Homo sapiens: one gene and its partners. The protein of the gene in region 4 interacts with the protein of the main gene of each other region in a pairwise test. Each region holds a gene or a part of one and is shown on either strand. Other genes may lie near its edges.

The links.
Region 1: the proteins of DDX6 (region 4) and ZBTB10 interact in binary tests that used the Homo sapiens proteins (3 or more experiments, as listed by UniProt).
Region 2: the proteins of DDX6 (region 4) and GPRASP3 interact in binary tests that used the Homo sapiens proteins (3 or more experiments, as listed by UniProt).
Region 3: the proteins of DDX6 (region 4) and CNKSR3 interact in binary tests that used the Homo sapiens proteins (3 or more experiments, as listed by UniProt).

The regions. Positions count from the first base shown.
Region 1 is NC_000008.11:80,492,726-80,496,225, reverse strand, and holds part of ZBTB10 (zinc finger and BTB domain-containing protein 10), read right to left. Parts: intron 1-3,500. UniProt on the Homo sapiens protein: May be involved in transcriptional regulation.
Region 2 is NC_000023.11:102,719,509-102,723,542, forward strand, and holds the start of GPRASP3 (G protein-coupled receptor associated sorting protein 3), read left to right. Parts: upstream 1-1,234; 5' UTR 1,235-1,317; intron 1,318-1,448; 5' UTR 1,449-1,583; intron 1,584-1,855; exon of another isoform or gene 1,856-4,034. UniProt on the Homo sapiens protein: Survival and differentiation promoting protein that plays a role in the regulation of neurosynaptogenesis. Induces phosphatase PP2A activity which results in APP dephosphorylation and inhibits BACE1-mediated processing of APP.
Region 3 is NC_000006.12:154,413,186-154,416,685, reverse strand, and holds part of CNKSR3 (connector enhancer of kinase suppressor of ras 3), read left to right. Parts: intron 1-2,262; coding exon 2,263-2,387; intron 2,388-3,500. UniProt on the Homo sapiens protein: Involved in transepithelial sodium transport. Regulates aldosterone-induced and epithelial sodium channel (ENaC)-mediated sodium transport through regulation of ENaC cell surface expression.
Region 4 is NC_000011.10:118,747,263-118,750,213, reverse strand, and holds the end of DDX6 (probable ATP-dependent RNA helicase DDX6), read left to right. Parts: 3' UTR 1-2,451; downstream 2,452-2,951.

The sequences.
Region 1 (3,500 bases), on a different chromosome or scaffold from region 4:
GCTAAACTCAATAAATTAATAAATTCTTAGTGCCAGAGACAAAATCTCAAAATAGGTCCCTAATAACTCCAGGTATCTTTGCCTCTTTGGTTCCTTCTTTAACGTTCTATGTCCACTTTTAGTATACTGATAACATCAGATATCACTGATAAGTTAAAAAAAATTACTATTTCCACAACTGGTCTTTTCAAATGTAGTGACCTTTTCTAACCTCTCTCCCAAAAAGGAAAACACAATTAGCTCAGACATTAGTCTAAACTGGCTAAACAAGGAGATTTTAAAGAAACAGACATTCAGAGCTAAATATGAAATCTTGAATTTTTTTATTTGTAAAGATGCCATTTAGTAAAACTTTAGTCTGGATGAGACCTCAATATCAAGTCTTCCAAAATTTAGAAAATATAGGTAAGTGTCCAGTTAGTTAAAATCCTTATAACCTATTATCTAGATGTTCAATATTTCCAGAACATAGGCTACAAAATAGTAAATATTTTACTCAAAGGAAAATGCTTGAAAAGTCCTAACTTTACATATTTATTTAATAAACATTAAATGAATACCTACTTTGGCCAGGGTCTACACTAGGAAGCAAAATGATTCAGTTGCTAATTTGAAGTTACTGTTAGTGGGTAAGACTCTTAAGGTGTTATAAGAGCAGAAAGCATGTGTATCTAATCCAGTTTTTTGTTTTTAAAGTGTGGGGATGCTTTTTCGAAGAAACAAGACCTGAGCAGAGCTTTAAAGGATCCAAGAGTGGGATGGGTGGATGAGCACTTCAAGTAAATGCGACGGCATTTAAAAAAAAAAAAAACAACAAAACAAAAACCCAGCATTTTAAAAAAACATAAGATGGTCTATAGCATCCTCAAAAGTTAAGATTTGTAAAAGAACTTCAATGTGATTTTCTAAAAAGCCCTACGGAATGCAAATATGCACTTGGGCACATTTCAGAGGTAAATGTCCATCCATTTTGACAAGAGCGCCATGTAATCTCAGCACTTTGGAAGGCGACAGGATGGCTGGTAGCCAGGAGTTCAAGACCAGCCCAGTCAACATAGAGAAACCCTATCTCCTTAAAAAAAAAAAAAAAGAGAGAGAGAGATTTGAATCCCCTTCTCCCTCCCAAATATTAGAACCATTGCTATAGGCACCTTACAGAGTTTTCAGAAGCAGTGATATAATCGAAATAGCAAAGAGGAGAGATGCCTATGGCAGCAAGGTGGAGATTTATTATCAGGGAATGAAGACTGCAGATACTGTGATCAGTTGGAAAGCTATTTTTCCTTTTTTTTTTTTTTTTTTTGAGACAGTGTCACTCTGTCACCCAGGCTGGAGTGCAGTGGTTAGATCATGGCTTATTGTACCCTCAACCTCCTGGGTTCAAGGGATCCTCCTGTCTCAGTCTCCCAAGTAGCTGGGACTATAAGATGTGTGCCACCACGCCCAGTTATTTTATTTTTTTAAATTTTTGTAGAGATAAGAGTCTCCCTGTGTTGCCCAGGCTTGTCTCAAACTCCTGGGCTCAAGCAATCCTCCTGCTTTGGCCTCCCAGAGTGCTAAGTTTACAGGTGTGAGCCATGTACCCTCTGGAAAGCTACTGTTAATAGGGCAACATACATGCCAGAAAAAAAAGACCTTAATTAGGGAAGATAGGTGTCAATGAGGTGTGAAGCAGAGCCTAGAAAAATAGTCTAAAAATCATCAGAACTTGCATGATAAAACAGATGTAAAGGGTGGAGGGAGAGAATCATAGGGTCATCAGCATTCCAGCTTGGGGCCTAAACAACGCCACCAACTTGTAGAGAATACAAGACCATCACCCAGTCTCCTACACTTTTGCGGGGGTAGAGGAAGAGAGGCTAACTTCAGTTACAAGTAATAGAAAGTCAAACAGCACACCTGTAGTCAATCCGTTAACAATAGGAAAATGTTATTCAGTTAAAGAAACAAGCAATTAGTATTTACTACCCTACTCAATTACAGCCCTTTTCCAATAACTGAATTAGCAGAAAAGACATTTCCAACACAAACATTTAAGTGTAAACTAAAAGCATTGAAAACATAAAAATATTACTCTGCAGCAACCCACTGGAATATACTGAAAGAACAAAAACAGTAATTTCTATTTCCAAATTTTAGAACAAATTCATTTTATAGAAGGAAGACAAACAAGGCCATAGCAAGTTTTGCCAAATACATGCTAGTGGCAATGACAAATCATAACAGTTGGTAGAGAAAAAGACAAGAAGGTCTCTTTTGCAGTTTTCTGATCACCTCTATATCTCTGAGTGATGGCATCCTCTTTGGTAGCTTAAGTACTATCCCCAGAAATTCTAATCCTGTGAGTGTTAGGGAGCAGACAGACGATGGTTATTCAGGTTATTTTTTATTTTTTATTTTTGAGACGAAGTTTCGCTCTTGTTGTCCAAGCACAAGGGCGCGATCTCGGCTCACCACAACCTCTGCCTTCTGCGTTGAAGCGATTCTCCTGCCTCAGCCTCCCGAGTAGCTGGGATTACAGGCATGCGCCACCACGCCCGGCTCGGTTTTTTTTTTTTGTTTTGTTTTTAAATTAGAGACGGGGTTTCTCCATGTTGGTCAGGTTGGTCTCGAACTCCCGACCTCAGATGATCCATCCCCCTCGGCCTCCCGAAGTGCTGGGATTACAGGCCTGAGCCACCGCGCCCGGCCTATTCAGGTTATTATAACATCCTGCCAACCAGTTCTCTCCTCAAACTCTAAACCCACATACACACTACGCAGGTGCCTCTAGATTGAAACACATACACATTTGATAATGATTCTCCCCTGCTTAAAACTGCTATTGTTGCCCATTTGTTAAGACAATAAAATTTAATGTTTTCAGCATGACAAGAGATCCTCCATGACCTCCAGTCTATCTATTCAAACTTGATTTTTCATCCTGCACAGCAACCAAACTCTCCCTTCTCTAAGATACCATTCTTCACTTTCCTCAGGCTGTGTGTGTGTGTGTGTGTGTGTGTGTGTGTGTGTGTGCGCGCGCGCGCGCGTTTTGAGGCACAGTCTTGCTTGTCGCCCCAGTTGGAGTGCAGTGGGGTGCCTGCTAGGTTCAAGTGATTCTCCTGCCTCAGCCTCCCAAGTAGCTGGGATTACAGGCACCTGCCACCACGCCTGGCTTATTTTTGTATTTTCAGTAGAGACGGGGTTTCACCATGTTGGCCAGGCTGGTCTCGAAGTCCTGACCTCAAGTGATCCACCCACCTCGGCCTCCCAAAGTGCTGGGATTACAGGCATGAACCACTCACTGCGCCTGGCTCCTCCTTAGGCTGTTTCTAATTGCACTGCCTAAATGCCCTCCCCATCCTGGTCAACACCTATTAATTAAATGCAATTAAAATTCAAGAATCAGTTGTACAAGCTTCTTCCAACCTTTGCAGGTAGAACTGATCACTCCCTTAAGAATCTTCAGGCCGGGTGCGTGACTCACGCCTGTAATCCCAGCACTCTCGGAGGCCGAG
Region 2 (4,034 bases), on a different chromosome or scaffold from region 4:
TACAAAAATGGCACCTTTTTCACATAATTATTACCGTAAAAAACATAACATTTCCTTTTGAGGTGACAACAAAGTTCTGGAGCTAGATAGTGGTGATGGTTGTACAACATTGATAATGTACTGGGTTGTATACTTTAAAATGGTTAAAATGTTAAATTTTATGTTATGTGTATTTTGCCACGATAATTTAAAAAATGACCACACAATACCTTCAGTCAGGAGAATTGGAAGACAGGGCTATATGTTGGTTTGGAGAGGAAATTCAGACGTACGAGAAATATCCAATGTTTTATTATTTTTAGACATAACATTTATTTGTCTGAGAATGTTCTAAATTTTCAAAGGTAAAATTACAATTCATGTAAATGTAAAAAGAATATGTGAAAGATTTTTCAACACAATCAACAACTGCTAGGATTAAGAAAACAGTTGAAGGGTATATGTGTATATACAATATACACAATATGAAGATATAAACAAAACATTGAATTTCATAAACACATAGGAAATTAATAAATGTTAGAATAACACTGCCAGGTTAAATATAAAACGGGTTAATATCTTACAGGGCAATAAATTGTAACATTTAAGGTTTTCTATTGCACTGGACATAAATCATTTACATATTTATTGAATAAAATATCTACATGTTAACATCAGTGTCTACAGAGTTGAAAAATAGGTAAATCAATAGACATCCTGCACTGCCCTGAAATGACATCCAGTAACTGAAGGTGACTTTATCTAAGTTTGGTATAATTTTTCTGACAGTGCAACATGCTTTTTTTCCCCACCTGATCCTAGTTTGGTAAGGTAATATGGAAGTGGCAGTTTTGCCTCCCATCGCAAGCCATAAGTTTTAACAGGGATTATCCTGGTGGTGCAAATTGGAGTTTGAATGTTTGTTTTGCTTACCAGCATTTTTCAAGACAGATCTGTGTGTGTTTTAGTATGTCGCTTGAGTCGTATACAAAATATTAAAAATCACTTCATTTCCCAAATCCTCATCGAATGTTCCTCGCCAGCCGAGTGGTCCTCCAGAGCAAAGGCCAGCCTTCCTTCCAGCTGTCTGGCCAAGGAGCTTCAGGATCTTCTAGCAAGCACCCCAGAGGCAGAAGACTGTCATCCATGGTACAGGACTGCGGCGAACAAGCTGACTGCGCAGTCACGTGGGGCTGACGGTGGGTCATGTGACCAGGCTCTGCATTAGGCCTGCCGAGAGGAGTGTTTTCTTGCATCCAGAAAAGACCTGAGAGGCGGACGACACCTGTGCTCCGCAGAGCAGAACGTGGGAGGAACGGCGGGATGTTAAGGTAGGTAGGTGTCTTTCCATGCTGCATCAGCCTGAAAACTAATTTCTCAGGCGACTGGAACTACAGCATTTGTTGGTAAAGGAAACAATCCGTCAGCCAACCGGGAGCGTCTTAGCCCGTCTGTCTTTTGTCCAGGAGCTCAAGAAGCAGAGAGTCTACCTGCCCGACGCGTTCGTGGAGAGGAGCAGCGGTTGCTGTTGGAGGAGGTGGGTGCAAGGACGGCAGATGGCATCCCTGAGAGGTGGTGACTGAGACTAGATGCGGGTGCAGGTAATGCCTCAGATCCGCCTGCTCCCTCCTGCCTTTTGAACACCCTTGACCCCTCATCCCAAGGCTCCCAGCCCAGTGCCCTGTGTTTGTATGTGTGGGTGGGGGAGGTGGGCATATGGATGGAGTTGGCTTCAGGGGAGCCCAGAGCGGGGAAATGGTGAAGTGACAATTCGTGAACACCTGTGGTGCTGGATCAGGAAAGGCAGGGGTGGGGATGGGAACCGTGAGCTATGCGTCCGCACTCATTCTACTCTCTGTCTTCTTACTGGCAGTATTCAGGCAGTGGGGATGGCTGATACCAGCTCAAAACTGGCGGAGGGTGGAGGAGGGCAGAAGAGAACACATACATCTGCCTTTTGCTCCAAGGCTCCAGCTGGCTGGGGATGCAAGAGAGGAATGAACCTCAATCCCGGCAGTTCTAGGAAAAGGAGGAGGAGACATAGACTCGAGGGGAGGAAACCTAGATGCTGTGGGCCCTTCACCTAGGATTTCTCATTAGGATACTCCAAGCTTCTCGACCCCCAAGGGGATTCCTGGATCTCAGCCCCATGCAGCAGGATCTCATTCCCATTGAGGGACACAAAGTGGGTTGCTACTCCGTGTGAGCTCTCTCTCCCTGCTGTCTTGGGCCTCAGAGGAGGGTCTTTCTGGGGACCACCTACAGAAACTGCTTCATGGATAGTCTCCTAAGTTTCCCTCTGCATACCCTTTGCTCTCTTGTGTTGTGATCTCTGCTCATTCCTTAGGATGTGTTTCTTTGGTCCCATCCTAGGTAGCAGCCCCATGGTAAGTCCTTGTCCTCTTTCACATCGAGTATCCTCCTTTCCCCCTACCCCATGCACCCACTGGGTACCAAGTGAAAGAAAATGGTTCCTCTACCCACAATACTTCTGGCACAGAATGTGTGGATTTTTCACACCAAGCAATTCTCTTATTCTTTGAGGACATCAGCTAGGTATTCTACAATTTAATTCAATTCTGATACTACCCAGAGTTAGTGCAGACCTCTCTGGTTAAGGGCTCATTCCCATAAGACTGCCCTCCCTCACTTCAGACAACAGTCACAAGTAATGGATCTCCATGTCACCCACACTTCTGTCTGACTTAGCTACTAGTTGGAAGTTCCCACAACCCCCTCCTCAGGTTCAATAATTTGCTATAAGGGCCCACAGAACTCAGGGAAACACTACTTCCTATTACTGGTTCATTATAAAGGATATAAATCAAAAGCCAGATGAAGAGGTACATATGGCAAGGTCCAGAAGGGTCCCAAATGCAGAAGCTGCCATCCATGTGGATTTGGGGTACACCACCTTCCCAGAATATGAATGAGTTCACCAACCTGGAACCTCTCAGACATTTGGGATTTTTATAGAGGTTTCATTACATAGGCGTGATTGATGAAATCATTGACCATTGGTGATTAGCTCAATCTTCAGCCCCTCTCTTCTCCTTGGAGGTCAAGGGGTGAGGCTGAAAGTTCCAACCCTCTAATCATGCCTTGGTCTTTCTGGTGACCATCCATATCTTGAAGCTATCTAGTGCACCCACCAGTCATCTCGGAACATAAAAAAAGACACCTATCACTCCAGAGATTCCAAGGGTCTTAGTGTCAAGAACTTGAGACTAAAGCCACATGTAACAAAAGATGCTTCCGTTATCCCTATCAGGAAATAGCAAGGGTTCTAGGAGCTCTATGCCAGGAATATGGGACAAAGAATTATGGTTACCAAAGGCTGGAAAGGGTATTGGGGATGGGGTATAAAAAGGAGTTGGTTAATGGGTACAACAATACAGTTAGAAGGAATATGATCTAGTGTTCAGTAGCACAATAGGGTGCCTATAGTTAACAATAGTTATTATATATTTCAGTATAATTAGAAGAATAGATTTGGAATGTCCTCAGTGCAACAAAATGATAAATATTTAAGGTGATGTATATCTCAATTACATTACACATTCTATGCTTATATCAAAATATAATTTATACCCCATAAATATGTACAAATATTGCATATCCATGTGAATTAAAAATTTTAAAAAATTTTAAAAATAACTCATTTCAAATTTCAATCAAAATAAAAAAGATCAAATGCTGATTTCTTCATATATCACAATACATACAAAGTCAGTGTAAGAAAGTGTTGCTAGGAAGAAATGACTTTTTCTAATCCCACTCCTATCCTTATGTTTATACCAAGTTTATAGAGTTGAAACTATGTTGTTCTACTACTTTAAGCCCTCCTATTTAGACTTAAAAGCTAGGATAGATACAAGGTATGTGGGGCAAAATCATAGGTAGAGATTAGTCCCTAGGACTGCATCCTCGTCTCCTACCCTCTCCTATTATTTTCTTCTCTTTACTCTCCAGAATTCTGATAATATAAGTACTGGGGCCAGCATTCAGCTTATGGTTTTCTACTCAAGCTGTCTTGTCTCTTGTCTCTGTGT
Region 3 (3,500 bases), on a different chromosome or scaffold from region 4:
CACCCACCCTTCTCAGAAGAGAGCTCTAAGTTGTTCAACATCATTACTGTTGTCCTATCATAGAAAAGGCATTCACCACTCTGTTTTGATGCCACACTCCTGGGAAATGAGAGTTACTGATATAGAAGTAATTATCAATATGTGTGTTTTCAGGGAGCATCAATTTTGTGGAAATGTTCTAGTTTACTTTTGCTTCTAAGATTTGGAGAATCTGGATCCTGGCCTCATGTTTTCAGATATGGTCCGAAATTGACATGTTGAGATGTCAATCAATTACAAATTGAGTAGAATTGATAGATTATGCATTAATGGCCACGGTTTAAAATATGGGGGTTCTACTCTGGAAGACTGAAAGCTCAGTCCCTGCCCCTGTGACTTGGTATCTCTCCTGAAAATGAGCTGTCCTCTGTGAATCTCCTGGTGGCCATGTCTAGCTCCGTCACACTGGCTAGTCAGTCCTTTCAATCCTTAGAATCAGGTCACAGTTTCACTTCAGAGATCTCTTCCATTACAACCAGGCTGGGTAGGGTTGAAGGGTAGCTTTTTGTTTTCGTTTTTGTTTTTTTTGGTAGAGACGGGGCTTCATTATTTTCTCTAGGCTGATCTTGAACTCTCGAGCTCAAGTGATCTACCTGCCTCAGACTCCCAAAGTGTTGGGATTATTACAGGTGTGTGCCCACACGCTGGGCCTAAGGGTACCTTTTTATGTCTGCCCAGGGCTTGGCACAGTCTCACTGGCCTTCACCAAATATTTCCCTGCCTTGACTCCAAGATTTCCTTGCTGTTCTTTACCAACCAGAAAAATCATTGTTGTCATTGTTAGATTGTAGAAGGTAAGATTGAAGTTCTCACATGAGATATTAAAAACCATGTCCTTTGAGACCAGTATCATAGTTCAAACTCAGCCATGTGGATTTGAAGTTAAGATTAACTCGTATATATGAATGCATATATGTATAAATAGTACTAAAATAAACGGTATAAGGTTGTGTATTTTCTATGGGAAAGCAGTGTCCTAAGTTGTTTACATGTGTTACCTTACTTAATTCTCACAGCCACCCTATGTTGGTGCTATCCTTGTCCCTATTTATTCTCATTTTATAGATGGGGCACAGAGACATTGTGTGACTTGCTCAACAATAAACAGCTAATAAGGGCTGTGCGTGGTGGTTCACACCTGTAATCCCAGCACTTTGGGAGGCTGAGGTGGGCGGATCACCTGTGGTCAGGAGTTTGAGACCAGCCTGGCCAACATGGCAAAACGCCATCTCTACTAAACATACAAAAATTAGCTGGGTGTGGTGGCACGCACCTGTAATCCCAGCTACTTGGGAGGCTGAGGTAGGAGAATCACTTGAACCCAGGAGGCACAGGTTGCAGTGAGCCAAGATGGCGCCACTGTGCTCCAGCCTGGGAGACAGAGGCAGACTCCATCTTAAAAAAAAAAAAAAAAAAAATGGGCAGCTAGTAAGTCTAGCCAGGATCACATCCAGAGTTCCAAGCAATACTCCTAGTCAATAGTAGCACTGCTACTGATTGCTTTTTCTTTTCTTTTCTTTCTTGTTTTTTTTTTTTTTTTTTTTTTTTTGAGACAGAGTCTCACTCTGTTACCCAGGCTGGAGTGCAGTGGTACACTCTTCGCTCACTGCAACTTCTGCCTCCTGGGCTCAAGCAATCCTCCCATCTCATCATCCCAAGTAGCTGGGACTACAGGCGTGTGCCACCACGCCTGGCTAATTTTTATATTTTTTTCGTAGGGACTGGGTATCGCCATGTTGCCCAGGCTGGTCTCGAAGTCCTGAGCTCAAGCAATCCATTGTCCACCTTGGCCTCCCAAAGTGCTGGGGTAACAGGCAAGAACCGCCGTGCCCAGCCTTGCTAGTAATTTTCATGAACTAACTCATCTAATTCTCACTGCAGCTCTATGCAAGAGATATTATCAGTATCACTCCTTTACAGAAGAGGAAAGGGAGGCCACAGATGTTTAAGTGATTTGCTCAGAGCTAGAGTCATAACCCTGGCACCTGGCTCCTAAGCCTCTGCTTCTTGCCACTATACATCGTCATTCAAATCCCTCAGCTCATTCTAAGGTTTCAAAGAAGAATGTAAGTTAAATATTGCCAATATCTGTAAACACATGAATGACCTCAGTCCCTGTTCAGACACGGGGTTGGTGTTGGTTTGGGGGAGGGGAAATAAACACCAAGAATCATCTCTGAATTGATCTCCACTCTTTGCATTGCTGTGTTACTCCTGTTTCAGACCTCACCTCCACCCGCGACAACCCAGTCCCCTGAAAGCACTATGGATACCTCACTGAAGAAGGAGAAGTCAGCCATCCTGGATCTTTATATTCCTCCTCCGCCTGCTGTTCCCTACTCTCCCCGGTATGTTGCTGTCCATTGTCATGGTATGCTTGTCTCCTGTTGGTGTCATTTGTAAATGGTGGTGTGAAAAGAGGATCTTGAGAGAGGAAGTTGCTGAGCCACAGTGTGACAGGGCTGAATCTTGAACTGCCGTTAAAAGTATGATCAGCCTTATTTTATAGGAGTGTAGGGACATATCTGGGTTCTGTGGGGCTTGAAGCTATACAGTTTGGTGGGGAGGGCCCTTCTGAGAAAAGAATATGGCAGTATTGGCCAGGTGTGGTCGCTCACACCTGTAATCCCAGCACTTTGGGTGGCTGAGGCGGGCAGATCACTTGAGCTCAGGAGTTCAAGACCAGCCTGGGCAACATGGTAAAACCTCATCTCTATAAAAAAATACAAAAATTAGCTGAGTTTGGTGGCAGATGCCTGTAGTCCCAGCTACTCAGGAGGTTGAGGCAGGAAAATCGCTTGAGCCTAGGAGGTGGAGGTTGCAGTGAGCAGAGTTTGTGCCATTGCAATCCAGCCTGGGTGACAGAGCGAGACCCTGTCTCAAAAAAGAAACAAAAGGATATAGCAATACCTTACTTTTGAAAAACGAATGAAAACGTGCTCTCCTGGGGCCTTGGAAGGGTCTATTGGGGGCCCTGCAGGTTAAGTTTCATTAACTCCATGGTAAATTCATCTTGAGGGGGTAGATAATAAGTATTTCTGTGAGATTAATGAGAGTTGCAGCTTGATTTTGCTGAGAAAGATGTGTTCTTCATAGAACTTGAAAAAAAACCTATGTGGCCAGGTATGGTGTCTCACGCCAATATTTCCAGCACTTTGGAAGGCCAGTTCAGAGGATTGCTTGAGCCCAGAAGTTCAAGACCAGCCTGGGGAATATAGTGAGGCCCCATCTCTACAAAAAATTTAAAAAATTAGCTGGGTGTGGTTGTGTGCACCCGTGGTCCTAGCTACTCAGGAGGCTGAGGTGGTAGGATCACTGGAGCCCAGGAGGTCGAGGCTGCAGTACAATACACCATGATCATACCACTGCACTCCAGCCTGGACAACAGAGTGAGACCTAGTCTCAAAAACAAAAAAACAAAAAACAGAAAAACTCAGACCTTGTGAGTGTAGGTATGAACA
Region 4 (2,951 bases):
TCTGGAAAGGGGGGGAAAAAAGCAAAAAACAAAATTAAAAAAAATTGATTTCCATATTTTATTTTTCAAAACCCTAAAATATTACAAAATAAGTCCCGCATATACTTTAATGTTTTAACTCTTTTGGACAAAGGAATCAATTACTTGAAGTTGCTTTTTTGACTCTGCCTACTTCTGAGCAAACTATTTGCGACTCACCCACAATTCCTTGGAGATCAAAATCCTACAGATGCCTCCTGATGGGACATAGCCCTAACTCCTTAACAACTGTAGCAAGAACTGCACGGTACAAACCCAAAAAAGAACAAGCTCATCTATTTGGAACCCAAGCCTCATATTTTCTGTCCAGTCAATGTTGGTTACTAAATAGAAAACCTAATTAAGGAAGTAACTTTTTTCCAGGGAGGGGTGGGAGAGGGAATTTAAAAGGTGTCAACTTTTGACCAAAAAAATTGTGCCCTTGTACCGATGCAGCTCTCTTTCTCCCCCACCTCTTGCGAGATAAGAGGGATCATTCATGTAGAAGAAAAGAGTATAAATGCAATTCTGTATCTCGCTAGAGAACGTGTGGGTGACTAAACAAAAAGTGCAGTCTCCTTCACCAACTTTAGACTGCGTGGTGCCACATGCCTGTGGGTCCCTCTTAAAGCACAGACTTAAAATGGAAAGTATTACTGAAGTATAGCCTCTAATGAGGAGTGGCACTTAAACTATCTGGGACACCACTACTGGACACGGTCTTGTAGAGGCAGCTGTCCAGTTTTGGTGCTTGACTCTTGAATAGGAATTGTTAAATGGAAAGATGCTCTGAGGACTAGGTCAAAGCCTGGTCTTTTTTTTTTTTTTTTTTTTTTTCTTTCTTTTTTGGGCCCTCATAATAAGCATTGTTACTATTGGAAGTTGTTTTCACATTCTTTCCAATATTAAATATGTATTTTTTTAAGTAATGATAATATTTTCCAGTGGCTCATTTGGATGAGAACTACCCTCTATTTTTAATATTAAAACTACATCCAACTCATCATTTAGCCTTTGGTTGTACAGTTGTGTAATGGGCTATGGACTGTTACACACCTTACCACCTCTAGGCCTATGTTTTTTCTTTCCCCATATATTCTGATGGGGATAAATACTGTTTTGCCTCTCCCATAGGAATGGAATACATTTATTCTAAAATGATCTTTCACAGAAGTAAGAGAGAGGGAAACCTAAATATACCTCTAAATTGTTTGAAGTTGGTCCCAGCAGCATAAAATGGGTTGGCCCCAAAGGGTTGGAGGGTGGGCTTGGTTATCAGTATTTGTTTTCAGAATGAGATGGGAGCATCTTTCCTTTGCCACGTGCTTTGTGCTTGATAACATCATGCTTGGTTCAAACGACAACTCAGCACAAAGCCTTGAGTATAAATTGTTGGAATCAAAACATCTCATTCTGATGACGTGGTTTAATTTTTTAATTTTTTTTTTTAATAGGGGTGGGAGGGAGGGTACTTTGCCCCAGAAGGGAGGGTGTCTGCACTAAGGATTTAGAAACACTTTGGAAGCTCATAACCTCATCAGAAACTGCCTTTAGCCACACTCCTGACCTTCTAGATGAGTAACAAAAAAATGAAATAAGTTCTTGGAAATTAAGCCATTTATTTTAATTTGCTATTTTTTTCAATGTTCTAGGTATCTTTAAATTTGTTATTGTGGAATCATTTTCCTGCCAGATACCTTTATCAAAATTATTGGCCTCATGAGAGCTGAAGTAAGTCAGCTTTTTGGTGAACTTTAGTGGACTTCTGTGAGATTGTAGTTGTACTTTGTATCTCTAAATCTAAAGATAGTTTTTTAAAACTCCCAAAGAAAATCTGCTCTCCTTTCTGATCTAAAAACTCATCTTTGGGGTAAAGAGTTAAGTGTCCAAAGGTTGTCACAGTTCATGAGGTCAGAGGGAGCTAGCCTGGCACCTGGACTCTGCCCATCCACAGCTGACAGATTCCAACAGAAGTGTATTTAAATTCTCCAGTAGACAATGCTGGGTAAGGGAGGGGGTAGGGCTGGGTTATTAAGATACAGGCTGCTGTATTTTACATTGGTTGTGTGGGAAGGGGAGCCTGGAGAAAACAAAGTCACTATTCCCTTTTTTGAAACAGGAAAAAAAATTATTTTTTGTTCAGTAAAAATGGTAGAGAATTCCAATGTCCCTAGCCACAAGGGACCAGTTCCACTGAGAAGTGAACAGTGGGAACTCAAAATTTCAGAAACATTGGGGGAAGGGAAAATTGGCTTTCTCTTAATTGGCAGATGTTCCAGTGGGGGGGGGGGGGGCTCTGTTTTTGTTGGGATGTGTTATGTTGTATGTACGCATATATGGACCGGAGTCTGCTGAGTTTATAAGGTTCCAAAAATATGGTAAAATCTTGGTTTTTGTTAATTTATCTCAATAAAAGCCCACTGGAACTCCAAATGTGTGTGTGGTATGTCCTTAGTAGCAGCTGTGTGCATAGGAATCTGAGCATTTTGCTCAGGTAATTCATACTGTGAAACAGACATTTCTCAACCCATCATTCCTGTGAAGCCCAGTTGAATTCAGAGCCCCTTCATCTGTTGTAGATACTGTTCCACCATGCTGTCAGATTTCACAGCCTAAATGGAGAACCAAGATAATCGGTTGGGAAGAGGGGAGATGTGGTCCATAATATGTCCAAATACATCAGTAATTACCACCTCCTACAATTGTTCTCAAATGTAAAGCTGAACATACCCCCAAAACCAAGGCATACTACATCTTAACAGTATGAATGGAATTCATATGCTGAGAACTACAAACCACTGATGAAATAAAAGATTGGGAAATAAAAGTTGGGAAAAGCAGACACTTAAAGTTGAGCACATCACTCTCACTACCTCTCTACCCAAAGAAATGCTTAAGTATAACTAAGAAAATAGAGTCAGTCCCCTGTATCT